Homo sapiens: one gene and its partner. The protein of the gene in region 1 interacts with the protein of each later gene in a pairwise test. Each region holds a gene or a part of one and is shown on either strand. Other genes may lie near its edges.

Evidence for each region.
Region 2: the proteins of BTN3A2 (region 1) and CLDN2 interact in binary tests that used the Homo sapiens proteins (3 or more experiments, as listed by UniProt).

What each region holds. Positions count from the first base shown.
Region 1 is NC_000006.12:26,355,904-26,372,414, forward strand, and holds the start of BTN3A2 (butyrophilin subfamily 3 member A2 isoform a precursor), read left to right. Parts: upstream 1-9,294; 5' UTR 9,295-9,433; coding exon of another isoform or gene 9,434-9,449; intron 9,450-12,071; exon of another isoform or gene 12,072-12,086; 5' UTR 12,087-12,147; intron 12,148-12,274; 5' UTR 12,275-12,279; coding exon 12,280-12,364; intron 12,365-12,661; coding exon 12,662-13,009; intron 13,010-14,418; coding exon 14,419-14,700; intron 14,701-16,511. UniProt on the Homo sapiens protein: Plays a role in T-cell responses in the adaptive immune response. Inhibits the release of IFNG from activated T-cells.
Region 2 is NC_000023.11:106,910,651-106,927,102, reverse strand, and holds the start of CLDN2 (claudin-2), read right to left. Parts: upstream 6,702-16,452; 5' UTR 6,552-6,701; intron 1-6,551. UniProt on the Homo sapiens protein: Forms paracellular channels: polymerizes in tight junction strands with cation- and water-selective channels through the strands, conveying epithelial permeability in a process known as paracellular tight junction permeability.

The DNA of each region.
Region 1 (16,511 bases):
GACCTCCCAGATCCAAGCAATCCTTTTGAGTATCTAGAACCACAGGTGCACACTACCATGCCCAGCTAAATTTTAAACTCTCTAAAGAGACAGGGTCTCCCTATGTGGCCCAGGCTTGTCTCAAACTTTTAGGCTCAGGTGATCCTTCCACCTCTCGACATCCCATAGTGCTGGGATTACAGGAGTGAGCCGTCTTCCCTGGCCTGAAACTTTTACATATATTTGTTACAGCAGTTGACACTACTCTAAGCAGGATATATACCTTGCATGTTCAATAAAGAATATATAGAAATAGCAACAGTTTTCAGGGGAACATTGTCTTTGAGGATGAAACTCTGACTTTTTTTCTTATCTTGGCCAAACTCCTCCCTAAGGGACCTTGGGAGTCACCCCTACAAACCATAAAGTTTCATCAGAGGGGTTTTATTTAACCCTATGTGACGTGGTTTGCTTTCCAACCTGGCTCTGGCATGACCTCACATAATAAATAAGGAAAGAAATGAAAATATTTTAGCCCCAAATATATTTCCTTGTCTTGAAATGACCCTGCAAAGTTGTCTCTCTCTTGTGGGAATAAAATCTACATCTTTTTTTTTTTTTTTTTTTTTTTTTTTGAGGCGAAGTTTCGCTGTTGTTGCCCGGGCTGGAGTGCAATGGCGTGATCTCGGCTCACTGCAACCTCTGCCTCCCAGGTTCAAGCGATTCTCCTATCTCAGCCTCCCGAGTAGCTGGGATTACAGGCACATGCCACCACACCTGGCTAATTTTTTTGGTATTTTTAGTAGAGACGGAGTTTCATCATATTGTTCAGGCAGGTCTTGAACTCCTGACCTCAGGTGATCCACCCACCTCAGCCTCTTAAAGTGATGGGATTACAGGCGTGAGCCAACGTGCCCAGCCCGTTCTTTTCCTTTTTTTTTTTTTTTTTTTTTTTTTGAGATAGAGTCTTGCTTTTTTTCCCAGGCTGCACTGCAGTAGCGTGATCTTGGCTCACTACAACTTCTGTCTCCAGGTTCAAGTGATCCTCCTGCCTCAGCTTCCAGAGTAGCTGGCGTGCACCTCCACACGCAGCTAATTTTTCTATCTTTATTTATTTATTTATTCTGAGACGAAGTTTGGTTCTTGTTGCCCAGGCTGCAGTGCAGTAGTGTGGTCTCAGCTCACTGCAAACTCTACCTCCTGAGTTCATGTGATTCTCCTGCCTTAGCCTCCTGAGTAGTTGGGGTTACAGGCATGAGCCACCATACCTAGCTAATTTTTGTGTATTTTTAGTAGAGATGGGGTTTCACCATGTTGGCCAGGCTGGTCTCGAACTCCTGACCTCAGGTTATCCACTCGCCTTGACCTCCCAAAGCACTTGGATTACAGGAATGAGCAACCGCAGCTGGCCAACTTTTGTATTTTTAGTAGAAATGGGGTTTCACCATGTTGGCCAGGCTGGTCTTGAACTCCTGACCTCAAATAATCAGTCTGTCTTGGCCTCCCAAAGTGCTGGGATTACAGACATGAGCCATCTCGCCCGGCCAAAACTTTTTTTTTTTTTTTTTTTGAGACAAAGTCTCACTCTGTCACCCAGGCTAGAGTGTAATGGTATGATTATGGCTCACTGCAGCCTTGAACTCCCAGGCTCCGCTTCCCAAGTAGCTGGGACTACAGGTGCATGCCACCACGCCTGGCTAATTTTTGTATTTTTGTAGAGATTGGGTTTTGCCATGTTGCCTAGGCTGGTGTTGAAATCCTGGGCTCAAGTGATCCACTGTGCTTGGCTTTTTTTTTCTTTTTTTTTTTTGAGACCGAGTCTCGCTCTGTCACCCAGATTGGAGTGCAGTGACTCGATCTTGGCTCACTGCAACCTCCGCTCGGCTGGGTGCGGTGGCTCACGCCTGTAATCTCAGCACTTCAGGAGGCCGAGGCGGGCGGATCACCAGAGGTCAGGAGCTCAAGACCAGCCTGGGCAACATGGTGAAACCCCGTCTCTACAGGAAATACAAAAATTAGCCAAGAGTGGTGGCGGGCGCCTGTAATCCCAGCTACTCAGGAGGCTGAGGCAGGAGAATCATTGGAACTTGGGAGGCGGAGGTTGCAGTGAACTGAGATTGCACCCATGCACTCCATCCTGGGCGACAGAGATAGACTCCCTTTCAAAGAAAATAATAATAATAATAATAATGTTTTCATGATGCTTTGTTGATATCTCCTTCATCTTAACATATCCAGAGGCTGCTGGCCATAGTCACGTGTGAATCTTGGGAATAAAGTAATAGAACCATGGGAAGCACTCGCTATGTCTATTGACTTATGTGCTCACAACTACACAGATAATAATTGGGGGCATATTTAATCCACATCTCTCAACTGAATGACAGTTGTCAGAGGCCAGTGATCTGCTATTGCTGTTCATCGTGCCTTCCAGCTGCCTCCACATTCTAAGGCAACTACAACATGTGAGAAGAAATCGATAGGTCACCAAAGTGTGGTATCATATGTTCTATATTATAGAGCACATATGATTTAATAACAACAAAAAGCTTTCTAGGCCAAATGCAGTGGCTCACACCTGTAATCCCAGCACTTTGGGAGGCCTAGGCAGGAGGATCACTTGAGCCCAGGACCTCGAGACCAGCCTAGGCAACATAGTGAGACTCTGTCTCTATTAAAAAAAAAAAAAAAAAAAAAAAAAAAAAGCTTTCTAAGCACATCCGAGAACTGTAGAAATCACTGTGGTCTAACCACCTCATTTATAAATGAAACCATTGATATTCAGAGAGGAAGTGATTTGCCTATGGCTACCCAGGTTTTGTCCTGGGATGACGATTTAATCCTTAAAATAGTAATCTGTTTATGAGTTTTCTGATTTTAAAAGTAATTTGTTTTTATTCTGGAAAATGAGAAAAATAAGGAACTTTTTTGGAGGTTCTAACAAGGGGGTGAGTGCAGCTACTCATATATCCTTAAATGATCCGGCTGGGCGTGGTGGCTTATGCTTGTAATCCTAGCACTTTGGGAGCCCAAGGTGGGCGGATCACTTGATGTCAGGAGTTCAAGACCAGCCTGGCCAATGTGACGAAACCTCACATTGTGAGGGGGCCTGGGGCTAAGCAATAGAAAAAATTTGCTGCTGAGCATTAGGAAGTTTCTCCCTCTCAAAACTGTGTGCTCAAAGAGGATGACCTTTCCCAATAGAGGAGGCTCATTCTTATTTTTTAATTAATTAATTAATTTATTATTATTATTATTTTGAGATAGAGTCTCACTCTGTCACCCAGGCTGGAGTACACCCAGGCTCACTGCAACCTCCGCCTCCCAGGTTCAAGCAATTCTCCTGCCTCAGCCTCCCAAGTAGCTGGGACTACAGACATGTACCACCACACCCAGCTAATTTTAGTATATTTAGTAGAGACGGGGTTTCACCACATGGGTCAGGCTGGTCTCGAACTCCTGACCTCGTGATCCACCCGCCTTGGCCTCCCAAAGTGCTGGGATTACAGGCATGAGCCACCACGCCCAGCCTCTTTCTTCTTTTATTGCAGACCTCTGGGATTCAGTTTACCATGGCCCTTCTCTCAACAGCAGCCACCAGCAAACCACTTAACCCCTTGGGCTCCTGCTTCCCTTCAACCAAGAGCAACAATCATCCTTTTCTTTTCTTTTTTCTTTTTTGAGACAAGGTCTCACCCTGTCACCTAGGCTAGAGTGTAGTGGCATGATCTCAGCTCACTGCAGCCTCTGCCTACGGGGTTAAAGCGATTCTCCCACCTCAGCCTCCCGAGTAGCTGGGACTACAGGCATGTGCCCCCACGGCCAGTTAATTTTTGTATTTTTTGGTAGAAATGGGGTTTCACCATGTTGGCCAGGCTGGCCTCGAACTCTTGACCTCAAGTGATCCGCCTGCCTCGGCCTCTCGAAGTGCTGGGATTACAGAAATGAGCCACCACGCCTGGACAGAAATGTTAAAATTTTAAAAAATTATTTTAATGCCAATTTAAATCTAAAAATTGTAACCTAAGCAGACTCTATATCATCTGGTTCACATCTTTATAATCAACTGTTGTGGAGTGGTTCCAGTTTCCAAGGAAACTACTGTTTATCATATCAGTGACCAATGACTTCCCTAATAACAAATTTTAACTTTTAATGCTGCATTTTTTAACTAGTTCCCATCTCTTTCAGTAGTTAGAAGACATATTTTCAGATGTATTATAAAAATTAGTTTTTGTCTAAACAAGTTTTTTACATAACTCTGCTGAAGAAACTCTGGCCTGAAAGATGAAGTCCAGCTTTCTTGGACTTTTTTTTTTCTTTTTCTTTTTCTTTTTCTTTTTTTTTTTTCGAAACGGAGTCTCGCTCACTCTGTAGCCCAGGCTGGAGTGCAGTGGTGCGACCTCAGCTCACTGCAACCTCTCCCTCCTGGGTTCAAGCAATTCTCCTGCCTCAGCCTCCCGAGTAGCTGGAGCTACAGGCACCCACCACCACACCTGGCTAATTTTTGTATTTTTAGTAGAGACGGGGTTTCACCATATTGGCCAGGCTGGTCTCGAACTCCTGACCTTGTGATCCGCCCACCTTGGCCTCCCAAAGTGCTCGGATTGCAGGCGTGGGCCACCGCGCCCGGCCTCCTTGGACTTTTTATCTGCATTGCAGGCACTCAGTGGTCCAGGCCACCTACTTCTGCTCTACCTTTGGACATCCTGGCAATGTGCTGCTCCTCAGCCTGACCACAACACCTGCAGTGTCCCAAACATATCATGCAGTTTCATGCCTCTGCACCCATTTCCTCTCCCTGGTCAACACACCTGGGTGACCCCTATTCTACTCACTCAGACAAACCAGGACAGGATCCTTGACCTTTCTGCAACTCTATTTTTCTCACCTAGAAATAGAATTAATGACATCTACTTCTTTAGCAGATGTTTAGGAATGAGATACGGTGTGGAGAGCACCTGGTGCGAACACAGCGCGTATCTGTGATAGTGACCGTTAGCCGTTATCCTCATCACCACATCCTTTCCCCACATCTCAGATGGTGCCACAGTCTACCACCTCAGAGAGAAAATAGAAAAGGGAGGTCCCAAACTTCCTGCTCCACCACCTATACCTGTCCCTCATGATCTGTTTCCTCTGATTTCAACAAGCAGGTGTTCTTTCTCCTGTCTCAGGCTAATTCTGCACCCACATCGGGGAGCCCCCACCCCAGCTTCCCTCAGGCTTCTCTATTTGGTCAATTCATTAATTCATTCATTTGACAAGGATCCATGAACGCTAACTATGTGCCAGTCACTATTCTAGGTGGTGGAGTCACAGAAGTGAACAAAACAGAAAGTTCTCATTCAAAAACAACATAACTTGTGGTAGGAGGCAGACAGGAAATGAAATAATTAGTAATATATATGGTGTGCTGGATGATGATAAGTGCTCAGGAGAGAAATAAACCTGGAATAGCAGAACTTGCATTTCTTTTTGAAGGGGTCTTGCTCTGTTGTTCAGGCTAGAGTACATTGGAGTGATCATAGCTCACTGCAGCCTAATTTTTTTTTTTTTTGAAAGACAGAGATCTTGCTATGCATACTGCCCAGGTTCTTGAACTCCTGGCCTCATGCAATTCTCCTCCCTCGATCTTTCAAGGTCCTGTGATTACACCTGTAAGCCCTCGTTCCCGGTTGGAAGTTACAGTTTAAAATAGGGTGGTTATGAGCAAGGGGAGCGAGGCACAGAATACTTGGGAGAAAAGCATTCCGAGTTGAGAGAACAGCAGTGCCAGAGCACAGAGGCAGAAGCACTGTGGTTTGTGTGAAGAAAAGCAATGAGGCTGGGGTGCGCAGAGCACACAGGGTGATCAGGAGAAGAGGAGGTGACAAGGCCAGAGGGGGTTGAGGGCCAGATCATGTATGGCCTTGAAAGTCATCATGCTGACCTGGGCTTTACCTCTGAGAGGGGAGCCACTGGAAGGTTAGAGCAGAAAAAGGACTGGACTGACTTATGTTTTAAGAAGTTACTTCACATGCTAGACCAAGATGGGCTGTGGGTAGGGGTGGTGGATGGAGGCCTGAAGACCCAGCTGGGAGCTACTGCAGTGATCCAGGGGAAAGATGCAGATGACTTGTACCAGGGAGGAGCCATGAAAATGTTATGATGCTGGATTTATTTTCAAGATAGAATAAAAAGGCTTTGCTGATAAACTTACAGGTGGGGTGTGAAAAAGGAGGGCATCAAGGGTGACCACAAGGTTTTGGTCCTAAGAAACGGTACAGATGGAGTTGCCACTTACTGAGATGGGGAAAATGAGGGAGAAACCGCTTGTGGAGGCCAGAGGAGGAGCCAGCACAGAATCCAAAGGTCAGTTTTGAATATGTTGGGTTTGAGGAGCTTACTAGAGATTCCCGTGGAGATGTAGAGTAGGCAGGTCAATAATAAGCTTGCAGTCCAGGCAACGGGTCAGGGCTGGAAACACAAGTTATTCTCTTTGTCTTCTTTATATTCATGTTTGTTGCCACTGTGTGTTTCACTTACCTAATGCATTCGTGATTTATTGCTGCATAACAAATTACCACAAACTTAGTGGTTTAAAACAGTACACTTTTCCAGCCTGGGCAACATGATGAAACCCCATCTCTACTGAAAACGCAAAAAATAAAAGATAAAAAATTAGCCCAGCGTGGTGGCACACACCTATAATCCCCGCTACTTGGTAGGCTGAGGCACAAGAATTGCTAGAACCCAGGAAGTGGAGGTTGCAGTGAGCCAAGATTGTGCCACTGCACTCCAGCCTGGGCAACACAGCGAGACTCTGCCTCAAAAATAAATAAATAAATAACAGTACACTTTTATCACTTCAGTTTCTGTGGGTCAGAAGTCCAGGCAGAGCTTAGTGGGCTTCTCTGCTCAGAACTTCACAAAGCAAAAGTATTATTCATGCATGTAAACCTCTAAGCACAATACCAACATCACGGTAGGTTCTATGTGAGTATAAGCTATTATTAAGAATAATAATCAATCCTCTTCCCTCTCCTCCATCCCTAAGGCCTCATCATTTCTTGCCTGGAGTGTCACAGTAGCTTTCTTCCTGGTCTCCTTGTCTTCTACCATCTGATTCTCTAATGAGGACTGGCTATATTGTGTAATCATAGCGTCATCATTCCACAGAATACAATGTAAATGGCACTCTTACTTCCCATCTTCCCTGGCACCTTTCACACTATTGTTTCCAATGTACACATTTTCTCATGCCATTTTTAAAAAAGATTTTCTCTTCACCTTCAAACTAAAACTCCAACTCCACAACAGGCACCAGCTGATACCGAACCTTTCATAATGGAAAATAATGACATTCATAAAGAGTTAATATGTGCAGGTGCTGTGCTAGGTTCTCCCCAAACAACTTAAGAAGCAGGTCACATCCCTACCCATAGCTGAAGAAACAAAGACATTGAGTGAGAAATGAACTTAGGGGTCTCATAGTTTGGAAACTACAAAGTTCAGAGATATGAAGAGTTGGGCTCAGAAACTCCTAATCTGAAGCTTAGCACATTGGCTGCTTCTTTGTGTCAAAGTGACTTGGACCCTCCAGGCAAAGGTGGGATGTTCATTCTTACTAATACGATCTCAAGCAGCACAGCTTCTGATAGAGTCTGAATTTAAAAATAAACAAATGAACAAATAAACAAATATTGATGGATGAATAGGGGTGAACAGCAGGATGGATTTATAATAAAGTAAGAAACTAAAATATTAATTATACAATCTACATGGTAGATATATTGGAATTTACTGAAATTCTTTCACCTTTGCTATATGTTTTAGAAGTTTTATAATAAACTGTTGGGGAGGGGGAAGGGGGAGGGAAAAATTGTGTTTTTCTGTTGATAACAGAGACCAGAAGTACCACTGGCTTAAATAAAACAAGGATTTGTTTTCCTTTCATGAAAAACAAACTTATTTGGAAATTTACCCTGAGTACTAATATATAATAAAATATTTTAAAAGAAAAAATTTTTTAAATAAATTTAGATGGTGACAGTCCAGGGCTGATCTGGCACCTCAGATATGTCATTCATGCCCCAGCCTGCTTCTGACTTCATTCTCTGCTGTCCCAGTGTGTGGCTTCCAACCTCAAGGCTGCCTCATGGTCCCAGGGTGGGCTACTGCACCTCCGGGTCCAAAGTCCATGTTCTAGGCAAGAGGAAGAAGGAAGAAGGGAGAGTGTACCCTCACACTCCCAGCTATTTTGGCCTCCCTTTGAAGGATTTCTGGGAGAAGTACAAGCCCACAACTTTCACCTACAAACCGCTGGCTCCAACTTAGTCCCTTGGCCTGCCCTATCTTCAAGGGGGAAGAGCAGGATGCAGTACCCCAGAAAATTAGGCCTTGTCACTAAGAAGAAGGGGGCATGCACGCTGCAGAAGCAACCAGCCATCTCAAGCAGATACCACACAGCCTAAATTCAAACTGTTGCAATATAATCAAATCCCATCAGCTCCAGTCACATATTAGCTCTAGGAGATTTCTGGCTTGCAGCCCAAAAAAGTGTGTTTTGAGGTCGTAAGCCACAGGGAGAACAAGATTGTCCCATAAACTCCTTACAGAGATGGTGTACAGGAAACGAGCCTTACAGAGACCACAGCCTATGGAGTGTCTAGCTTCAGAGAATATGTACTCCACTGGCAGCGTGAGAAACAAATACCCAAGAAAATACAATATAGCACAAACCAGGAGCTGAGGGTGAATGAAGATGCTCAGAAAGATCTGCAGTAAGAATTTCCTGGGAAAGGTAAAACAATGTCAAGCAGCACTGCCTCTGGAAATCAGAAAAATTATATTATTTGATACCATATCCTAAGCCTAAATGCCAGAAGTTCTTAAAGAGGTGCAGTTTGTCTCATTTTCTTTCCATTCATACCTTTATTAGGCTCTGTAAAAAAGATCCTCCTCTTCTACGTACCTATCTACATGCAAGCAAACTGCCACAGAAGCATCTTAATTAGTGCACATCTTCCTCTCTTTGCACATTAAATTTTTTTACTTTCCTACTCCATTCTGCTAATATTTCTATTACCATGTAAAAGACACGAGACAGGTGAATATAAAGAAATACTTATATACATCCACGCACAAGAATGATTCAAATAGATAAACACAGAAACACAAACACTAAGGGAGGTAGGGCTGGAGTTTTTCCTCAACGTGTACAATTCAATGTACTTTCAGTTTTCATTTCAACGTTCCTCAGTGGTTTCTGCCCAGCAACTGATGAGAAACATCACCTCTGAGCCAATCAAAAAACTAATTCTTCCAAAGAGCGACTCTTACTGTTTCTCATGGTGAGAAGACAATATTTGCTTTCTCTTTTTCCTTTCTTCCGGATGAGAGGCTAAGCCATAATAGAAAGAATGGAGAATTATTGATTGACCGTCTTTATTCTGTGGGCTCTGATTCTCCAATGGGAATACCAAGGGGTAAGTGCAGGAAATTGATTAGAGCCTGGGCTACAACGCATGGGAGGAGCGGGGCTGAATCGCTGAGAGTGGTGAGTGGGCATGCAGGGAGAGTACTCTCCCAGAGAAAGGGGTGCAGTGCCTGTGTGTGTGTGTGTGTGTGTGTGTGTGTGTGTGTGTGTGTGTACATGTGTACATGTGCACACTCGCACATGCACATATGGGCACGTGGGAAGACGGGAGAAGTACTGCAAAGTATAAGGAACTGCAGAGGTTGGGATTTAGTGGAAGGAAAGGGAGACAACATGAATGAAGAAATATTCCAACTGCATGTTCTTAACGTATTGTGGTCAGAAAAGGGCAAACAAACAAACAAACAAAAAACCCTTAAAATCTGTTCTGGCCAACTCAAGGCATCTATTCTGAGAAATTCTGAAGAAGAAGAAGAAAAAAGAGATGTGCCTCATAGATTTATATGTAAATGTGTTTATTACAGAAGTATTTATAATATAGTAAAATCTGAACCAACATACATATTCAACAGGTGGGGAATAGACAAACAATGCATGGTTCAGTCATAAAACATGTTCCATGTAACCATTAGGAATCATAATTTTAATTAAGTGAAATTCTTTATAATTTTAATAACACTGGATCCTTATATTAAACCATTTTTGGTATCTTTTAGGGATAGTACTTGGTTTTCTTTCCATTCATCATTTCCCCAAAACCTAAAGCATGATTTCCCATGGTTACAAGCTACTACATTGTATGAATATATAATTATTGGGAGTCTCTGTGAGCCTACTCTGACTCAGAAAGCCGCTCCTAAAGAAGAAAAAAGAACAAACAAACAAATAAAAAACCCGAATTATTTTTAAAACTCTTTATTTTGGATTTTTCAGTTTCTACATTTTGTTACTGTAGATTTTACTAGATTGAACAGCCTTATCCATAAATATTTGCATCAATCTCTAAATTTTTTTCTTCAACACTAACTTTTATAGTTGGAATTTTGGGGGCAAATAATACAACATTTTAAAGGCACTTGCCATGTGTACATGGCCAAATGCTTCCAGAAACATTTCCACTTCCATTAGCAAAGTATATAACTACAGAGTATTTAAGGTTTTATTCCTTTATATTTTTTTCTTTGGCAAAATTGTCTATAGTAGAAAGAATGAATAATAAATAACCTAAAAAATAAAAGTTCTCCCTCTGAGGACAGCAGAGAAATTTTTAGCTTAGCTTAATAATACCTCCTTCTCCTTAGGAGAATAAAGAGCAGTTTCGAGGAGCAGAAGATGTGGTGAAATATAATGTTTAGTCTGATGGTGGATGCAAGATCCAGGCAGGGGTGGAGCATGACCAGCTGCACAGACCTCTGTTCCCTTGCTTCCTCTACATCTCTCCCCACCTCCATCTGCAGACCTTGTTCTCAGAGGCCATTCCCAGACCCACAGCAGCTGGTATGATGGCTGCAGGCCTCATGCTCCTTTGTTTTGGGAGAAACTGTTGAGGAGTTAGTATTTACTGAGCAGCTAATATGTTCCAGTCACTATTATTCCTCATAATAATTAGTTATTAACTAATACATGAAAATTTTAAACTTAAAGCATTCCAATAATTTTAAAAGTAAAGGAAGCAAAAGGCCAAAGCGTCCTTTCACTCACTTAACCTCCAATTTTCAGTTTAGCATCCATCATTTTAGACTTTTTCAGGCATTTACATATATAGTTATGCAGAAATGTATAGCTTTGCTTTTGTTTTTCAATTGAATCATTAGTATAGTTCTGCAAGGTGCTTTTTAATCACTTAGTATATCTCCATTATCCAGGCTAGTGACATTAAATCACTCTTTTTAACTGCTGCATTGAATTTCCTCCTAGGGATGAGCCATCATTCCTCTAACCAGTCTCTTGTGAGTGGCTGGTTCAGTTGGTAACCACTTTTATACTTTAAAAATAGTGCTGCAGTGTCATTCCCACAGAGGCTTCTCTCTGCACCCATGCGAGTACTTCGCTGAAGTAACCATCAGGAAGTGGAATTGCTGGGCCAATTGTGAACATTCTAAGTCTCATACTCGATATTTTTGAGTAACTAAAGTTGAAATGGTTTTGTCCCATGACTGAGATCATCAAGCTTGTGACTTGTAGAGCCTTTACCTATTGTCTACCCTCTTTGTGTTCCTAACTCTACCATAGTGGGTCCAGCCCATTGTGGGTGCTCAGTAAATATTTGTTGAATAACTTTATGAAGGGAAGAAAGAAAAGATGAGTAAAGCCTGGTCTTATTCAAAGCTCTCCTAATCAATATCTTTGTGATTAAACGTGGTGGGTTCAGCCCCTGACTGACTTCAGAGCCTCTGCCAGGCAGTCTGCCTGGATCCCACCAGGAGCCACCAGGCCATAAGTTGACTGTAGTAATGGCCAAGAGTTTGACGCTTGAGGAGTCCATAGTGTTGGACACCCACAGAGCTGAACAAGGGTGGGACCAGGGAATCCAGTGAAGAGGGTCCTTCATGAATCAGAGGGGGATGATGGAAGCTTGGACCTGGCAAGGGAAGTGTGGGGAAGTGATAGGATTATGAATATTTTAATATTTTAATGCAGTAGAGTCAGAGATGTCCTGATCAGATAACAGATATTATTTTTACAGATGGTTTTCCATACTGGAACCCAAAGGTAAAGACACTCAAGGACAGACATTTTTGGCAGAGGTAAGATCTTCTTCGGTCACCATATTTGAGTTAGCCCTGGGGAAGTGGACATTTCCATGCAGAATCCTAAAGCTTCTTCCAGGCCATAGTGTCTGTCCCACACCTTCTGGTATCTCTTGATATGCAGCATAGATGAAAATGGCAAGTTCCCTGGCTTTCCTTCTGCTCAACTTTCATGTCTCCCTCCTCTTGGTCCAGCTGCTCACTCCTTGCTCAGGTAGGGAATGATTCCATGATTCCACATTTATGTTTCTGAAGCAGACAATTATCTCAATTACCTAATTAAGCAGACAATTACCTAAATGCCCTCTTAGAACCTTTAACTCATTCCCATACCTGGAAGTCCATCCCAACCTGAAGGATCACCTGTCACAAAGAGACAAATGGTCCTTCTGTTAGGATTGTGTTCCCCTCTAGGTTCTCTGTATCTCGCCTTCCCTGTCTGAGAAGGACCCTTCCTCTCATGACCCCAACTCCAAAACCCTCTGATGGAGCTTCCCCCTTGTGCTGACAGCTCAGTTTTCTGTGCTTGGACCCTCTGGGCCCATCCTGGCCATGGTGGGTGAAGACGCTGATCTGCCCTGTCACCTGTTCCCGACCATGAGTGCAGAGACCATGGAGCTGAAGTGGGTAAGTTCCAGCCTAAGGCAGGTGGTGAACGTGTATGCAGATGGAAAGGAAGTGGAAGACAGGCAGAGTGCACCGTATCGAGGGAGAACTTCGATTCTGCGGGATGGCATCACTGCAGGGAAGGCTGCTCTCCGAATACACAACGTCACAGCCTCTGACAGTGGAAAGTACTTGTGTTATTTCCAAGATGGTGACTTCTATGAAAAAGCCCTGGTGGAGCTGAAGGTTGCAGGTGAGCCTCCAGGTTTTGTTCTGAGAACATTTCTCTGTAGGATCTAGAGCAGATGCAGAGTCCCTCTTGCAAAAGCACTGCAGACACTCCTGGCTGCTCACTAGCAATTGCCTGCACTGCCTCCCAACTTAGCTTCTCTGAGGCCCTTGAGTAAGACACAGGTTTTCCTTTAGGAAGAATTCCTGCTGTACCCTACATGCTCAAGTAAAGAACTCCTTTCCTCTGGCCACCAGAGATATAAGCGAAGTGAAGGACGAGGGATAGGAAGCATAAGAAACCATCTCTTCAGTGACTGGTACACAGTCATTTTGGTTTAGTTGTGTAACAGATGGCTTCTGTTGTGTCTCCAAGTGCACACTACCATGGGTCCTGGGAGGTGGAATAGTGACTGTATCTGCTGCCAGTGTTCTCCAACTAGCCATCCCCAGGAATACTCCTGTAGTAGAACTAGCTGTATTTCTTACGTGTTGCAGTGAGGAAGAACACACATCATGGGGAGCTGTGGCGGGGTCTCAGTAAGAAGGTGTTAGAGCAGACTTGGTATACAATTTGGGCTTGTGTTAGGGGATTGGGGCCGGGGGAGTTCATAGACTTAGCCCTCTGCTCTGGATGAGATTCCATCAGGAAGGTGTGGGCAGGTTAATTCTGAGTGAGAGCCTTAATCAATCTTATGTAGGAAGAAGGAGACCAGGGTGAGACAAAAGCTGTAATTGATGAAGGGGCAGCAATCCCTCATTGCTGAGGGGGGATGTTTGGTCACTGCTGTGGTTTGGACAATGTTCATGTTTTTCTCTATGCTCACATATGATGTGGGGTGGTATTGTTTTTCCCATGATCCATCATAGTCACAAAGTGCCATTGTCTGTGTTCTGTGAAATTGCTTATGTTCAACAGGATGACACAGAGACCCGGTGTCAGTTTCCATATGTTGGGACAGCTTTTCTCTTTCTCAGTGCAATCCCTTGCCCTGTGGCTGCTGGTTAGGTTTGGTTTAAGGGGATCTCTAGCAGACAATCATAGGAGGAAGAGAAAAGGAAGAAGTCTGGGTGCTTATTCACTGGCTTCCTTACTGCAAGTTACCCTCAGGCTGGCTGCATTGCCTTGCTGAAGGTAACAGCTCCTCTAAAGGAAGTCCTCAATGCATGAATCTCTTCTTTTTTGTGTTCAAAACAGCTTCCTCTCCTCCTCCCTCTGGTAATTGGGGTGGGTGGGAATAGCCCCACTGTTTCTGACCCTGGGATACTGCACTAGCAAATTTAGTTTTCCCCTCATCATGACCACACTTTTGTAAACAGCTCCTGAATGAAATATCTCTTGAATTATCAAATCTGAGCCTGACATTGATTCCCATTGAGACCCTCCCTAATACAGGAGCTATCCAGAATTTAGGCCAAATTATCCTTCCACAGCACTGGGTTCTAATCTTCACGTCGAAGTGAAGGGTTATGAGGATGGAGGGATCCATCTGGAGTGCAGGTCCACCGGCTGGTACCCCCAACCCCAAATACAGTGGAGCAACGCCAAGGGAGAGAACATCCCAGCTGTGGAAGCACCTGTGGTTGCAGATGGAGTGGGCCTATATGAAGTAGCAGCATCTGTGATCATGAGAGGCGGCTCCGGGGAGGGTGTATCCTGCATCATCAGAAATTCCCTCCTCGGCCTGGAAAAGACAGCCAGCATTTCCATCGCAGGTCAGTACCTGCTTGGCCTCAGGTTTTCTGAGCTGAGCTGTGGCAGTTGAATGAAGGGGGATGTGTTAATATCTGTGGTCGACCTGGGTCTCTGCACTGAATATAAGGCCCAAAGCACAGACCTGGAGGCTCCTCTTTGTGCCAGGGGAGCTTCTTTCCTCCATAAAGGTGTTCGTAACACAAACATTTTCTGAACATTTCCTATCTGCCAGAAAGTATGACAGGCAATGGGAATTGGAGGAAAAACATTAAGATAAGCTCCTTATATAATGTGAAATGACAAAATGGTTATATATATATATTTACAAACTCATATCATAGAGAAAGAGCTGATCTCCTTGAATCAGAAGGAGATTCTAAAAACCTAGTAAAAAGTTTTGGCCAGGCATGGTGGCTCACGCCTGTAATCCCAGCACTTTGGGAGGCCGAGGCAGGCAGATCATTGAGGCCAGGAGTTTGAGACCTGCCTGGCCATGGTGAAACTCCATCTCTTCTAAAAATTCAAAAAATTAGCCAGGTGTGGTGGAGTGCACCTCTAATCCCAGCTACTCAGGAGGCTGAGGCACGAGAATCACTTGAACCCAGGAGGCAGACGTTGCAGTGAGTGAGAGCAGACCACTGCACTCCAGCCAGGATTACAGAGCGAGACTCTGTCTCAAAAAATAAATAAAATAAAATAAAATAGAAACCAAGTAAAAAAAATGTTAACAAAGCCCATGAATTATCAATTCACAGAAAAGGAAATAACTCACAAAAGGGTGCTCATTCTCACTCACTGGGTAAACATATGAAATAATTTTTCACTTATGATATTTGCAAAAATCAAAACTGCTTTGGCTTATAATACATGATTCTCATAGGAATGTAGGAAGGCAGTGACTCTCAGTCATTTGCTCATGTAACTTCCTGTATTTTTGATGTGCATTAGGTCAACCTCTGTTGGGGGCTCTATAGCAATATCTATCCAAACTACACACTTATCGATCCAAACTTCCACTTCTAGGAATTTATCTGATAGATAAGCTTGCATTTGTATGAGATGATCCATGTGAAAGGTTTCTGTTTTTCGTTGTGTGTGTGTCTTTTTTTTTTTTAGACAAAGTCTCACTCTATTGCCCAGGCTTGAGTGCAGTGGTGCAATCTCAGCTCGCTGCAGCCTCTGCCTCCCAGGTTCAAGTGATCCTCCTGCCTCAATCTCCCAAGTAGCTGAGATTACAAGCATGTGCCACCACACCCAGCTAATTTTTGTATTTTTAGTAGAGACAAGGTTTTACCATGTTGGCCAGGCTGGTCTCAAACTCCTGACCTCAAGTGATCCACCCGCCTCAGCCTCCTAAAGTGCTGGGATTACAGGCGTGAGCCACTGCAACCGGCCTGTAAAAGGTTTCTTATAGCACTGATTACTATTGCACAAGGTTAGAAACTGTGCAGATGTTCACTGCCAGGGAACTTCCATACAAGGGAATACTGCACAGTTTGTAAAAGGAAAAAGAAGCAATTCTCTCTATACTAATATGGAAAGATCTCCAAGATACACTTTACACAGAAAAAGCAAGATGCAGAGGGACGTGTATAGAATGCTATTTTTAGTTTAAACAAGAGGAAAAATAAGAATATATTTTAATTTACTTTTTTTTAGTTCTCAATTGGGTTAGTTTACATTTTTAAACTTCAACAAGCAATTTTGTAACACTTACTGTACATCAGGCACTTTATAAGTATTAATTCAATTCTTCTAACCTCAGGAAATAGGTATTATCATTACCCTCATTTTACATTAGTAGATTAGGCCACTACAAACAGAGAGGTTA
Region 2 (16,452 bases), on another chromosome or scaffold:
ATTTTTCTTTCTTTCTTTTTGAGACAGGTTCTCACTTTGGCACCCAGGCTGGAGTGCAGTGGCATGATCTCGGCTCATTGCAGCCTCGACCTCCTGGGCTCAAGTGATCCTCCTGCCTCAGCCCCACAAGTAGCTGGGACTACAGGAGCGCATCACCACACCTGGCTAGTTTGTGTGTGTGTGTGTGTGTGTGTGTGTGTGTGTGTGTGTGATCCTCCTGCCTCAGCCCCACAAGTAGCTGGGACTACAGGAGCGCATCACCACACCTGGCTAGTTGTGTGTGTGTGTGTGTGTGTGTGTGTGTGTGTGTGTGTGATCCTCCTGCCTCAGCCCCACAAGTAGCTGGGACTACAGGAGCGCATCACCACACCTGGCTAGTTGTGTGTGTGTGTGTGTATTTTTTGTAGAGACCAGGTTTTGCCATGTTGCCCACACTGGTCTTGAACTCCTAAGCTCAAGTGATCCACCTGCCTCAGCCTCCCAAAGTGCTAGGATTACAGGCATGAGCCACCGTGCCCGAACTAACCCACTAATTTTTCAACCCACCACAATCTGGCTATTCCATTTTAGCCTTCTTCAAGATTTCTCTTTCCCTACTCATCTCTTAAATGTGAGTATTCCTCAGAAGTCCATCCTTTTCTCAATTAACACTCTGTCCCTGAGCAAACTCATCTTGCCCCCATAACTTAATCTACTACCCATCCACTGACCCTCCCAAATCTGAATTTCCAGGATAGACCCTTCTGAGCTTCAAGACTGGCAGAGCAATCACCTAGTCAGAATCTCCACAGGGAAATCTCATAGACATCTCGAATTTGACATGTCCAAAAGTGAACTCATCACATCCCCCATGCAGCTTTCCCCAAACAGTTCTTCCCTGTGTTCCCTGTGTTCACTGAATGATACCTCTATCCATCCACTTGTGCCAGACCAAAATCCGGAAAGTGATCTTTAGCACCTTTCTTCTACTTACCTCCTGCATCCTATAGTCCCTATGTCCCACCAGTTCTACCTTATGAATATACCTCAAATCCATGGTTCCTTTCTCTCCATTTCCACTGCTACTTCCCTAGTTCAGTTTCACCATTCTTTTTTTGAGACCGAATTTTGCTTTTGTTGCCCAGCCTGGAGTGGGGTGGCGTGATCTTAGCTCACTGCAATCTCCACCTCCCAGGTTCAAGTGATTCTTGTGCCTCAGCTTCCTGAGTAGCTGGGACTACAGGTGCACGCCACCACGCCCAGCTAATTTTGTATTTTTAGTAGAGACAGGGTTTTGCCATGCTGGCCAGGCTGATCTCCAACTCCTGACTGCAAGTGATCCGCCCACCTCAGCCTCCCAAAATGCTGGGATTACAGGTGTGAGCCACCATGCACGACCTCATCATTCTCTTTCACCTGGATTATAGCAACAGCTTTCTAACTTGTCTTTCTCCCAATTCATTCTCCACATCATTGCCAAGGTGATCTTTCAACACATTAATCTGATCGAGTCACTACTCTACATAAAGCATTCCAGTGGCTCCCCATTTGCTAAAAAGTAAAGTCCAAACTTGCTTGGTTTACCCCATGACCTCTCAAGCTTCATCTCTTGCCATTTCCCTCCTCATAGTCTGTACTATTGTGGAATTAAATTACTTCCAGTTCTTCAATCATGCCATGTGGTCTTTTGCTCCCAAATAGAAATAGAACAGAATATTCTATGCAGAGTGTTATGTATTCTTCTTCCTCTGTTTAGTGCCTTCTCATCTTTTAGGATTCAGCACAGATGTCTCTTACTCTAGCCTGGGTCAAGTACCCCTCCTGTCTATTCTTACAGTATCTTGTGTTTACTTCCATCATAGTAATAATAATAATAGCAACACTTATGTAGTGTTTCTTATGGGACCATTATAAGCACTTTTTACATGCTAACTTATTTAGTCGTCACAGGTTTTTTTGTGGTAGGCACTAATAATCCCTATTGTATAGATGAAGAAACTGAGGCAGAGATAGTACATTTTGCATTATGTTGCAATTTCCTGTTTAAACCCTCATTCTTCCCTATTAGCCTGTGAGCTACTTGAGGGCAAGACTATATCTTATGTATCTCTGTATCTCATGTGCCTTACATACTGCTTTATCCAGAGCAGCAATTCAAAAACTGTCTTCTTAATAAATGAATGAAGTTGGCAAAGAGGTTTGAGGGGCTCCATATGACTAAAATATAGGGACTTTCCAAATGAGTCAATAACGCTTCAGTGTAAGGGTCATTGAAGTGCTGCCCAACGTTGGGAAAGAAGAAAGAGAGAGATGGGGGATCAGAGGAAGAAAGAGGTAAGGGGGGAGAGAGAGACAGCAGAGCTTCACTATGTATATATATAATGTATATTATATATATTTATAATATATATGCATTTGTGGAATATTTTGTCTCCTCAACCAAATTCTAAACAATTTAAGGGTGAAAAAATATATATTAAATGTCTATCATGCTTCCACAGCATTGGGCACATGATTGATAGTCAATACGATTCATCAGCATTGGAAACACCAATGCCAGTGTTGATGCAAAGCAGTGCAGAGCAGGAGCCGATAAACATTTGATGAAGGGAGAGAAACATAGTTTGAATCTCACCTCTGTCACTCATTAGCAAGTCTTTCTTGACATTGGTTTCTTATTGCTAACCTTGGCACAATTGTACCTGTCCTGATCATGACTATGTATCTCATTGAGGCCTTCAGTGCTGCTTGGAAATCCTTCTACTTCTCCCTGGTAAGCACCCTTCTGATGACTGCTTCAAACATTTACTACTACTTTTTGAGCTCCCTACTCTACCTCCTCCCTGTGCAGCTATTACTCCTATCTTGATCATTCTCTTTGCAGCCAAGATCCTTAAACAAGCCATTCATTATTGATGTCTCCACTTCTTCACCCTCCCACTCACTGCTCAGCCCTCTGCAGTCTGGCTTCCACCATTAGCCCTCCACTGAAAATATTCTCACCAAAGTTATCAACTCTTTTCTTGATCCAAAATTCAATGATCATATCTCTGTCATCTCACCTTGTCTCTCTCCTTCATAAAACTATCTTCTCCCTTGTTTTCTGTAACACCACTCCATTTTAACTACTTCTCAAAATGATTCTTCTAGTTTTCCCTTATAAGTTCCTCTTCTTCTGCTCACTCTTTAAGTCTAACTATCCATCTCTGCCCCTCTAGCCTCCTCAGGGTTTCATCTCGACTTCTAGATGGCTCTTCTTATCCTTCACATTCTTCATGGGTTATCTCATCCTCTCTGTCTCCATGCCAGTGACTCCTGAATTCATATCTCTGCCACAGATTTCTCTCCTGAACTCAAGATTTGTGTAGTTAACTATTACTTGGAATGGCCCTACCTGAATGTTTTAATGGCCTCAAATTCAACATTTGCAAAGCTGGAATCATCTGCCCTTTTTGCTCCCCATGCCCAAACTGCTCCTCATGCAGTGTTCCTTACCTCAGTGGGGCTGTCACTGAGTTAATAACCCAAGCCAGTCATCCTTGCTTTTTCACCTCTTGTTGACATATAATTAATTATAATGTACCATCAGGTCTGCCTTCAAAAATAGACTGTGAATCCATCTACTTCTTTCTGTCGCCACTGCCCTAAACCATAGTTCAGACTATGCAACCATCGTTTCTTGTCTATTTGAAAATCTCATAGACACCTCAAATTGATCTCTCTAATTCCACTTCTGCCCCAATCCTGCAATAATGAATTACCTACCCAGTAGTCAAAGATCTTTGTAAAGTTGAAATCAAATTGTGACTTTCACCTCACGCTTTGCCATGCTTAAAAATCTTCAGGAGCTCAGCCGGGTGCGGTGGCTTACGCCTATAATCCCAGCACTTTGGGAGGCCGAGGCGGGCAGATCACGAGGTCAGGAGTTTGAGACCAGCCTGGCCAACATAGTGAAACCCCGTCTCTACGAAAAATACAAAAATTAGTTGGGCGTGGTGGCATGTGCCTGTAATCCCAGCTACTAGGGAGGCTGAGGCAGGAGAATCGCTGGAACCGGGAGGTGGAGGTTGCAGTGAGCCGAGATTGTGCCACTGCACTCCAGCCTGAGCGATAGAGCAAAACTTTGTCTCAAAAAAAAAAAAAAAAAAAAATCTTCAGAGCTCTTAAGTATTTCAGGATGAAGTTCAAACTTGCTAGCCCAGGAAACCAAGAAAGCCCTCCATTATTTCACCCCGGCTTTTCTTCACAGCCTCATCTCACACCATTAACCTCCAACCTCATGCTTTATGCTCCTATACATACACATATGATCCAGCCAAACCTAAGCACTTGAATTTCTCTGACTGCCTTTCTCTCTGTCTCCAAGCCCGTAAGCATGCTATTCTACCATCCACCATTTGCTTGGATAATTGCAAATCATCTTTGAGGATGCATCCTTGCCTTGAAACCATCCTTGGGCCCTCCCTGCTCCTCACCCAGGCTGGGTTCAATACTTTTCCTTTCTTCCTCCTATTTGTATCTGAGCTTTCAGTGAGAATTGGTGAGATACCTTGAGGTTTTCAAGGGGAAGACCTACTGCTTCCCAGAGGAGCAGCTCCTGCTTCAGCCTTCCTGGGATGGCAGCTGAAGAGTCAAGCTTGAGTTTCCCAAGGGAATCAACAGTGTCCCCAAGAGGAAAGCCTCTCCCCAGAGCCTGTCCTAAGTAGTAGTAAGTAGGCAAGTGTTTTGGGGTGAGGGAGAGGGCAGAGTCAAGAAAATGCCATTACTGAGGCTTGGAATCTCTAGAGTCTGACTTGGCATAGCAGCATGCCCAGGCAGGAGGAAGAACAAGTTATTGGAGCTTATTCAAGTGATAGAAATGGCCCCATGGAGGGGGGGTTCAGCTTTCCACCAGAGTTAGGAAGACCAGCTAAATGGCGAATGGTTGGGTGGTGAGACAGGCTGGATTCAGCCAGGTTTTTGTTTGTCTGATGAGCAGTAGAGGTGAGGGCAGACAGGGTCCTGGTGTTAGAATCAAAAGATCTAGCTTCTTGTTGTGTCAGTTCTGCCTAGAACCTGCTGAGGAAGTCCTATAGCTTCTCTAGGCCCTAGTTTGTCATCTCCAAGATTTTTAGTCTCAAATAAAGGCATGGGGACAGGAAGCCACTTTGACAAATATAGAAGACTGAAGAGCTGTTATTAGAAGCAGCCAGTTTTAATAGAAGCCTCTCTTTGAGGGATCCTCCTAGAAGTCAAGTACTGGCTGCGTTGGAGGTACAGAGGACTCTAGGCCTTGTCAGCTGAATTTGTCTTCTGGGCATAGGGCCAACATACTCCATGGCCCAAGGACTGGGCAAGAAAGTTTAACTTAGGATCCTTACTTAATCTTCCCTAGTGGGGAGATTGGAGCTGCAGGAGAGGATTAGGAGGGTCAAGATTGACCGCAGCTCCTGACTTAACCCCTTCTCACCTAGGTACTTTCCCTGCTATTCTCCCCATCTCTTGCTCCAAGAGTCTTGTGCATGGTACTCTTTCTTTGGCAGTACCCTCCTAAGACTACATGGGACAGGGCACTTGGGGTTCCCAGGCTCAAGGAAGGAACTGATGTGGCCTTCTGGGGGTGATGATGGCCACCACAGCCCTCTTCTGTCAGTCAGCCTCATTTCTATATCCCTTGATCTCACTGCCCCTCATAAGAATCTGAGACACTTGCCCCCTTCTCTGAAACTCACTTCCAGCTGCCAAGGGCACTAGTAGGTGGCAAAGCCATTCCCTTGAGGCCCTACTTTCTTGAAAGTTTGTCCTTAGAGCAGTTCATCTTTCCTTCTACATCAATTGATTGATGGCAGTTCAGAGAATTGCAACTGGATTGAGAGATTTTCTTATTGTTTGAAAAAGAAGTTGATTTTTGTCCTGATCATCAAAGTAAAGCATTCTCACTTTAGAACACTGGAAAACACAGAAAGGCAGAATTTAGAAAACAAAAATCGCCTACGATCTCCCCGGCCATAAGTGCTGTGAATGTTTTGGTTCCAACTGCATTTTCAAAGAGGGCACTTGAAGAGAGTAATACCTCAGTCGAAAGAAGGAATTTCTAATGACAGACTTGCAGACCAGTGAGGGAGAGTCCTTGAAGGACCTCATGGGGAAACTTTATGACTTCACTTAGGAACCCACCTTCTGCTACCTCCCTGAGCCTTCATGCCAAGGAGGGCACTGGAGCTGGCTGTGAGGGAGTGCCCCTTCTGCCACTCCTCAGTCCCCTACACTTAGGCAGAGGGGTAAACTGTGGCTCCCTTCCTCCAATTTTTATCCCAGTCCTTTTAAGCCCCCAAACCAGAAAATATCTGATTTGGAGAGTGCTTTCTCTGGTCCTGAAGTTTTAAAGATTTGAACCTTTGTGATAGCTTTGAGGGAACAAATACCACCAACCCAAATGCCACCGGAGTTTCCCCTCCCATACCCTTCACTCAGAAACCCAAGGTGGCCCAGCCTGGCTCCACCATGGGGTGAATGGATAGTGACTAGGAAGGAAGAGTGCCCACCTCGGTGAATTTAAAAGGCAGCAACTATATCAGGATGGAGATACTTACAGGGCAGTTCTTTGCAGAGCCTTGGAGGGGGAGATGCCCCTGGAGAGGGAGAAAGGGATCCTGAGGGAGGGGAGCGAAGTACAAGGGGCCACGGGCTGAGGTGATAAAGGATTTCTAATCGTTAACCACAGCTTTGCAAAATCCATCTGCAAATCTGAGCCGTGGGTCAGAGACTTATTACAGATCAGAATTAAACCCCTGGAGGCTGGGAAAGATTGAGGCACTTTAGAAAAAAAAAAAAAAAGGTTTGGTGGGTTTTCTGTGTGTGTTTTTTTTTTTCTGTCAAAAACTCCACTCCAGCTGGGCTTTTGTGTGGTGACCTCTGTGAACCCAGGAGAGGCCTTGTGGGGAGGGGGATTTGGCCCAAGAAGGAATTCAGAACATTCCAGCTTTGAGGGTGGTGAGAGGAGGGGGCTCTGTCCCACCAATTAGGTGTCCCTGGCTAGCAGCCCTGAAGCCCAGCAGGGAGTAAGCTGCATAAACACAGCCCTGGTGAGCCAGTGCCCAAGCAGCCCTGCATGGCCTGCAGCTCCATAGACTTTTCTACTCAGCTTGATTCTCTGGCAGGCCCTCAGCCCTACCCCACCCCTAAGGTTGGTCCCAAGGCTCAAGGGCAAACATGGGTACTGTAGGTTCAGACTCTGAGTTCAAAGAGCAGGTCCTACAAGGTGGAACTGAGTAGGCCAGCATAAGGACAGGGCTCTCCTTTTTACCACACATGGCAGTGCCATGCACTATGTCATTTAAGCCTCTCAAAAGTGCTGTGAAGGCCGTGTGCAGTGGCTCACGCCTGTAATCCCAGCACTTTGGGAGGCCGAGGCGGGTGGATCACCTGAGGTCAGGAGTTCGAAAACAGCCTGGCCAACGCGGTTAAACCTTGTCTCTACTAAAAATACAAAAATTAGCTGGATGTGGTGGTGCGCACCTGTAGTCCCAGCTACACGGGAAGCTGAGGCAGGAGAATCACTTGGACCCAGGAGGCGGAGGTTGCAATGAGCCGAGATCATACCACTGCACTCCAGCCTGGGTGACAGAGTGAGACTCCATCTCAAAAAAGCAAAGCAAACAAACAAAAACCCAAACAACAACAGAAATAAAACCAAACCAAAACAAACAAACAAAAAAACATGCTGTGGAGTAGTAGAGCGCAGTGACTGGCTTTACTCTCCCAACGCAAAAAAGCTTTCTAGTTTTTTCTAAGTAGAAAAATACTAGATGCTATTGAAAAGAATTCAGAAAATGAATTATAAAGAAGAAAATAGAGGTCCTCATAATGCCACCAGCCAGAAATAATCATTGCTAACATTTTGATGTATTGTAGAAGATATCGATGGGATTTGTTTTATAAAATTGAATCACACTATACCTACAGTTTATGTAACCTTACATCATTTGTAAATAACATATCGTGGACCTATTTCCATGTCAATTAAAACACAGAACTACATCATTCTGTCATGGCTGCACTGCATTCTATCATATAAAATATGATTTATTTAATCGTAAACTACTAGACGTTTTGTTATTTTCATTTTCACTATAACCCAGCATCTTTGCACATAATACTGACAAAGTCTTAAGAATAGAATTGCTAGGTGAAAGAGTGTGCATGTTTTAAAGGCCAATACAACATGTTACAAAAATAAGACAGCCATTACTATTTCCAGATGAGGAAACCTCGGCCCAATGAGATGAAAAGAGTTGCCCAACATCCCAAGTTGAGCAGTAATAGTTAGACTTGGAATCTAGGTCTGTAGATATCTAGCTTGGCAAACTTTGCAGTGTACAACACCAACTCCCTCCCAAGGATTCCCATGTACAAATGATAAGGCCACGGTTCATTGAACACTTGCTAGGTGCCAGGCACTGTGCTGAGGTGTTTCCTATCCATGGTCTCACTGTGCTAGTACAGAGCAAGGCCTGGGTACCAAACCTGGCCACCTCTAGAGCTTGCCTCATAGTCATTATGCTTGACTCTATTTTTCAAGTCATATCAAAGCAAACAGTCGGATTTGTTGCCTAGGGTGAACTCAGTGAAGCAAACCAGAAATCATCCTCCTTCCCAAGGCGGCCCATCCCTACCTTGCAGGTACAAATGGGGCACTGATCCCCTGGCAGTGCTCCTGAGCAAGGGTCTCTCCAGGGCACTCCCTCTTGGCAGGCTGGGACACGCTAAAAGGGCAGCCATGCCTGAGCTCAGGCCTGGGGAGTCTTTGGGCATGAAAGCAAGCAAGGCTGAAGGGGTGGGAGGGATACCAGGCTAATCCTCTAACCAACTATGTGACCTCAGGCAAGCCTCTCCATTTTCTTTTCCCAGGCTTCACCCAGCCGAATTCCCAAGGCTGGGTGAATGAATGTGAATGCATTTTGACAAGTAGAAAATGCTGATTGAATGCAGAATGTAGTAGAGGGGCACCTTATCAGTTCATAGTGACTGTGCAATTGAGGATAGGAAAAGGCAGAATCTTAGGGGCAGGTGCCAGGGCGGATGAGGAGACTGTGTTGGCAGGATGTGGTTTCCAGATTGGCAATCATTCAAGGACTGGGTTCTAACACTGTGTTTCCTTCAGGTCGGCATTGTCAGATCCTGGTGGAATCATGCCAAATACTATGACTCCTCAGTGTTGAGCCTAGGAGGTTCTTTAGTAATCCTTCTGCCAAGACCCCTGCTGAGATCCAAAGAGCTTAGATGGGTGCGGGAATGGAGAGGGGGCTGAAAGAACAGGAAAGAATAGCAGTCTGAGAAAAGCAGCATTTAGTTCAGGAGACAAGTGAGTAGGGAGAGAATAAAGGGAGGGAAATAAGAGTATGGGAAGAGGTGGTTTGGGGGAAGAGAAAAGGAGAAGAGAGAAAAAGGGTCTTTGAGGAAGAAAATCAAAGAGAGCTCTGTAGAAAGCAAGGTCTTGAAGGGCAGGGAGGAAATGATGCTATGAAAAGAGGAGTCTAGAAGGAGAAGTAAGAGACTCTAAGGAAGAGGGTGTAGGGATGGACTCTGGGAGAAGGAGTTAGGGTCTAGGGCAGAGAGAGACTTAGAGACATTTCACCCTCACTGTTCCACCAAAAGAAGTTCTTGTCACAGTTACCAATGACCGCATGTCACCAAATCCAATGGCCACTTTTTAGTCCTTAATTTCCATGACCTCTATGCAACATTCAATGCCCTTGATAACCTTGTCTTCCTTGAAATACTTTCTCCTCTTGGCCTCTGTGATAACAACACTCCTCTGGTTTCCCTCTTATCTTTCTGGGTACTTCTTCATTGGTACCTCTGCCTCTGCCAGACCCTTAAATATGGGCACTTCTCAGGAGCCTGACCTAAGTCCTCGTTCCTCACTCTGCATTCCCATTCTGGGAAGTCTCATTTATCCTCTGTGGTTTCAGTTATCCTCTATCATCTGACGACTTCCAAATCATCATTTTCAGCCCAGACTTCTCTGGGCTTCAGACCTTTATATACTGGCATCTCCATTTGGATAGCTGAAAGTTGTCTCAAATGCAACATGTCCAGGGTCTTGCTCTGTTGCCTGGACTGGAATGCAAGTGGCATGATCACAGCTCACAATAACCTTGAACTCCTGGACTGAAGGGATCCTCCTGCCTTAGCCTTCCAAGTAGCTGAGACTACAAGCATGTGCCGCCACGCCCAGCTAATTTTTATAATTTTTTTGTAGAGATGGGGTCTCACTATATTGCACAGGTTAGTCTCAAACTCCTAGGCTCAAGCCAGCCTCCTGCTTCAGCCCCTCAAAGCGCTGGGATTACAGGTGTGAGCCACTATGCCCAGCCTCAAAATTGTATCCTTGATTTCCCTTTGAACTGAAATCAGTCCTCCTTCAGTCTTCTCCCTTTGAGAAAGCCAATTGTTTAAGCCAGAAACCTCAGAGTTAGCCTTAATTCCACTTTCTCTGACCCTCATTGTATCAGACCTGTAAATCTTTCCCATTCTACCTCCAAAATTTAGCTTTTTTGTCCATCTGCTGGTTTCGACTTCCACTCCCCTTAGCATCATCTCTCACCGGGATGCAATACCCTTCTGATTTTCCTATTTCTCCTTTTGGCTTTCTACAGTCCATTCTCCACATAGTAGTATGATTTGGCCCCTACCTAGCTCTCCAAACTGGTTTTGTACTACTCTCCTCACTCCCCACTCTCCCGACTGGCTTCCTTTCAGTTTCTCAAGCCTACAATGCTCTCCCTTCCCTCTAGGCCTTTACAAGTCCTGTTCCTTCTGCCTGGAACTCTTTGTGGACCCTGGCCCTACTCCACCTTCAGCTGGTTTTGTCTGGAAAACTCCTTATCCTTTAGGGCTCAGCTTAACGGTTGCTTCCCTGATTCCTGGGGTCTCTTGGTTGGATATTCCTCCTCTATGCTCCCAAAGCATCTTGTTATCCCCCCACCAATTGTCTTGGGTTGTATTTGTTGTTGCTACTCCTGCATAGGACTGTGAATGCCTGAAGGGTTTGGCTTTTTTTTTTTTTTCTTAATTCAACTTTTATTTCAGGTTCAGGGGTATATGTGCAGGTTTGTTATATAGGTAAACATGTCATGGGGGTTTGTTGTGCACATTGGGTTTGGCTTTCAATTGTTATTTTCATCACTATTCTAGTCTAATACATAGTAGGTGCACCATTGAATTGATGGAATCAGACTGAGAAGAGATTGTGGTAAGAAGGGAAACACTAGATGGGTCTGGGAAGAAAGGGGTCCAGGAGAAGAGGAAGGAGAGACAAAATGATTATGTAAGAGAAAGGTGGGTGAAGAAGAGAAGTTCTGGGAGGGGAGGCAGGAGAAGGGCTCATGAAGACATGTCTGGGAGGAAAGAGAGAATAAAGGTTTGAGAGGCAATGGATAAGCAGATCTAGGAGGAGAAATGTTGAGCAAGGGCTTCCTAAGCACTAATGCACAGACTTAAGAAGAAAGGAAGGGAGTGGTAGAGGATCACCAATAGGAGAAAACTAAGGCCAATGTAGCAAGATTTGTAAATTATTTAAAGCTTATTCAATTTAAAAGACTACTTGTAATTCCGGACTTATTCTTTGAATAGTTGGTATTAAGGTTTCTTTTGTAAAATAAGAGGTGGTAGTATTTTTCAATGCCCTTAATTAACAAAATTAAAAGTTTGAAAACCATATGTTGATTCTCCCTCATTTTAAAAAATTTTGTAATTCCACTGGTCCACAAAAATCCCAATTGAGGAGAGCTCTGGGAAGAGCACATTCTGTCAATGGGTCTCAACATTTTGGTCTCAGGACCACTTTACATTCTTATTTAGGAAATGACCTAAATGTCTTTCAACTAGTGAACGAATAAACTGGTACATCTGTGTAATGGAATACTACTTCACAATCAAAAGGAATGTACTATTGATACACACAGCTACATGGGTGAAGCTCAAATGTATTATGCTGAATGAAAGAAGCCAGACTCAAAAAGCTGCTTACTGTTATGTTCTATTTATATGACATTCTTGAAATGACACTACTTAGGGATGGATAATAGATTAGTGGTTGCCAGGAGTTGGGGTAGTGGAAGGGGTTTACTACAATGGAGTGGCATAAGGAAATTATTTGGGGTGTTGAAACTCTTAATTGTTGTTACATAATTCTATGCATTTGTCAAAATTCATGGAGCTGCACACCCAAAAGAGTGAATTTTATACATCCCTCCACATTTTGTCATTCAGCACCTTAATATCTATGCAAATTTAAAAATAAACAAATAAAAGATATTAGTTAACAAATTATTGAGGACTCCAAAGGGCTTTTATTTGTCTAACCTCCAAAGGGTTATATCTATTGACATTGAACATATTTATAATTAAAACTTACATTTTAACTATTTATGTATTACTTTAAAATAAAAATTATAAACCTATTACATTATAACATAAATAATATATATTTATGACAATTATAGTTTTCAAAACAAAAAAATGGCAAGAAAGTGGCATTATATTCAATATTTGCAAATCTCTTTAATGTCTGGCTGAGCACAAGGCAGCTGGATTCTCATATCTGCTCTTGCACTCCAGCTGTTGCAATATGTGGTTTTTGGTTGAAGTGTGTGAAGAAAATCCAGCCCCACAAAGATAGGGAGGTAGAGAAGGGGGGTATTTAATAGTCCTTTTAGGCAGAATTCTAAGAATGACCCCCAAATGTCCCTCACATGCCTATAAATTTCTTCTCTTTTGGGAGTGTTTCTGATGAGATATCACTCCCATGTTTGTGTTAGTTATATGGCAAAGGGAAATTATCAAGGTTGTACTCACCTAATCACAGGAATCCTTTAAAAGAGGGTTTGTGGCCGGGTGCGGTGGCTCACACCTGTAATCCTAGCACTTTGGGAGGCCGAGGTGGGTGAATCACCTGAGCTCAGGAGTTTGAGACTACCCTGGGCAACATGGCAAAACCCACTTTATTAAAAATGCAAAAATTAGCCGGGCGTGGTGGTGTGTGCCTGTAATCCCAGCTGCTTGGGAGCCTGAGGCAGGAGAATCACTTGAGCCCGGGAGGTGGAGGTTGCAGTGGGCCGAGATTGCACCACTGCACTCCAACCTGGGCCACAGAGCGAGACCCTGTCTCAAAAAAAAAAAAAAAAAAAAAAGTTTTCTAGTGGTGGAAAAGGAAGTCGGAAGTGAGAGAGATGCAAACTTGACTATGCCGTTGATGGTTTCCAAATGGAGAGAGCTGCGTAAGAAGGAGTGTAGGTAGCCTCTAGGAGCCATAAGCAGCCTCTGGATGACAGTCAGCAAGTCAGGGGGGCCTCAGACCCACACCCTGAAGGACCTGGATTCTGCTAACAACCTGAGTAAACTTGGAAGGGGACTTTTCCCCAGAGCCTCCAGATAAGAGCCCGGCTCAGCTAACCACTTCATCTCAGCCTTGTGAGACCCTAAGCAGGGAACTCAGGTGAACACACCTGGATTTCTAACCTATATAACTGCGAGATGATAAATGGGCATCGTACTAAGTTGTTAAGTTTGTGGTAATTTGTTATGGCAGCAATACAAAACTAATAAATGGTGTGGGGATTCTTCTTGATAACTACACCTAAACTTCACAAGTGGTTGTTTCTTAATGTTTCTTTGCAATGTTGAATCTGAAACTAAACCGTATCGGTGAACCTTTTGTACTCTGTTACATTAAAATCTACTGGTCAGCCAGGCACCGTGGCTCACACCTGTAATCCCAGCACTTTGGGAGGCTGAGGTGGGTGGATTACTTGAGGTAAGGAGTTCAAAACCAGCCTGGCCAATATGGCAAAACACTGTCTGTAGAAAAAATACAAAAATTAGCCAGGCTTGGTGGTGTATGCCTGTAGTCCCAGCTACTTGGGAGGTTGAGGCATGGAAATTGCTTGAACCTGGGAGGTGGAGGTTGCAGTGAGCCAAGATTGTGCCACTGTGCTCCAGTCTGGGCAACAGAGTGAGATTCTGTCTCAAAAAAAAAAAATCAATTGCACTTTGAATGGATCTGTTATCCATGCATGATTTTGTAACATCATGCATTAGTCATCTGGAAAATATCGGTCCACCCACTTATGCAGATCTTCCCATTGCTGACTCGCTTTTTGATTCTACAATATTAAAAAATCACATTCATTAGTATCCCTACTAATCTTATTAGAAAGCTCTTTAGGATATTGAGAAGCTCTCAAGCTCACAGTGGCTGATACAGGTTTTCCAAAATTGTGCTTTTTACTTGAAAGCGTAACTTTTATCATTGACAACAAATAGTAACAGTTGTTTTCCTTGAGGTGACAGGATCATTTTGTCCATTTTTAACAAAATACTTGCCAAGCACCCAAGTTTGAATAACCACAATTTATCTGTCAATCATTCAAGTAAAAAAAAAAATAAAGTGCTCCCCAGCACTTTGGGAGGCTGAGGCAGGTGGAATGCTTGAGCCCAGGAGTTTGAGACCAGCCTGGGCAACATAGCGACACTGTGTCTCTGCTAAAAAAATAAAACAATTAGCTGGGCATGGTGGCGCAAGCCTATAGTCCCAGCTACTTGGGAGGCTGAGGTGGGAAGATCGCTTGAGGCTGAGAGATCGAGGCTGCAGTGAGCCATGATGGCACCACTGCACTTCAGCCTGCATGACAGAGCCAGACTCTGTCTGAAAAAAAAAAAAAAAAAAAAAAAGAGTTCCATAAAAAATTCGCTAGTTTAGCTTGCAAGTCAATTGTGCAAGTGCTTTTCCTCATGACAATTGCACTTCAGTATGCAGAAGTGCTTTATATATCCATATATACTTCCTATGCCCAGCCCCATGAAAGTAGTTTTGACTGAACCTCCTGAATTTTAGGGGCTCCCTGGGTCTTTGGACCACATTTTTAGGGCTGCTGGTCTAGGCTGAGGCTGGAAGAGGGAGGGAAGAGGTCTGGGAAAGAGTGGAGATGAAATTTTAATTATGCTTAGAAATGTCCTGTCAGTAGAGGAGACAGCTGGGCATGAAGAGGAGGAGAGGATTCCTAGGTTCCTTCCCAAAGGACCTCTGCTGTTGTTGTGCCCTTTCCTACTCCTGACCTGCCTTGTTCATGAGCTGTCCCAGCCAAGTCAACAGCGACCCTCTGTAACTACTCGTATCCTGGGATCTTGGGTGCTCTGTCTTAGAAGGCCCCAATATGAACAGAGAATCCCACCCTGGCCCATGCACCTGTCATAGCTGTCTGCCACCCTACCGTAGAGCCCCAAGGCTACTTGCTAGACTAAATCTATTAGTCTTCTCAGACCAACTACCTGTGTCAACATCATTCCATTCACATGAAATGAACGCCTGCCATGTCCCCAGTCCTGTGCCAGGTGCTGATGGGAGCGAGGAGACAAGATTAAGCCACAGCACCTCGATAGAAAGGCTTGCTTCTTATCCAAAAAAGTGACTGAAAAGAGGGCTGGCACCCCTACATGGGGGAAAAGCTCAAATGAGAGGCCTGCAGAGGGACGCAGATGTTAGCGTGGCTTGGAGGCTTCCTGCAGTCAGTGTGGATTCAAGGAGGACCTGGAAGGGAGGGCAGAATTTGTGTCATGGGGAAGAGTGGTGTTCTAGTCTTGGCAGGGGTTTGGGGGGTGGAGATGGTCATGTGCAGGGACACTGTAGTAACAAGCCTGCTGGAAGTAAGGGGGAGAGCAGGGTGGAGTCAGAGGTGAGGCTTGAAGGAACAGGGAAAACATGTAAATGCCTCTTATTCCCATCACTCATGAGCTGCCATTGCGGGTGTCTGAGCAGGATGGAAGCTATGTTCTGGGAAGCCAAATCTGGCCCAGTATGCAAAAACACCTGAAAGTATGTGGGACAGAAAAGGAACACCAGTTTCCATACAGTATTTCATTTCATCCTCACTCCAGTCCTGGGAGATGAGTACTATTGTTTTCATCCCCAGGAAATTGAGGCTCAGAGATTGGTTCACTTACCCAACATCACCTGCATGGTAAAAGATTGAGGAAGGCTTCCAACCTAGGCCTGCTTCTAAAGCCTGTGCTCTGAATAGCCACAATGTATGCAATGATGGAGGGGCAAAAGGAACAATCATAATAGTCACCATTTACTGAGTGCTAACTACATGTCAGGTTTTAAGCAAAATCCATGCACTATTTCTTTCAGTCTTCACTGCAACTCTGTGAAGTAGGAACCATTATTTTTCCCCCACACCCAAGTCTAGCTATAGCGCCCAAGCTTTTTCCACGTTAAGATCGACTGCAAAAGTACAGGCATTAGACAAGAAGGGCCTGAGTTAGAGTGGCAGACAAACCTCTCAATAGCTTCTTGAGCCTGGGTAAATTGCTTAATCTCTCCATGCCTCAGTTTTCTGCTGACCTTTACTTTTATGGCTTTTTTTTTTTGATGGAGTTTCACTCTATCTGCCCAGGCTGGAGTGTAGTGGTGCAATCTAATTTTACTGC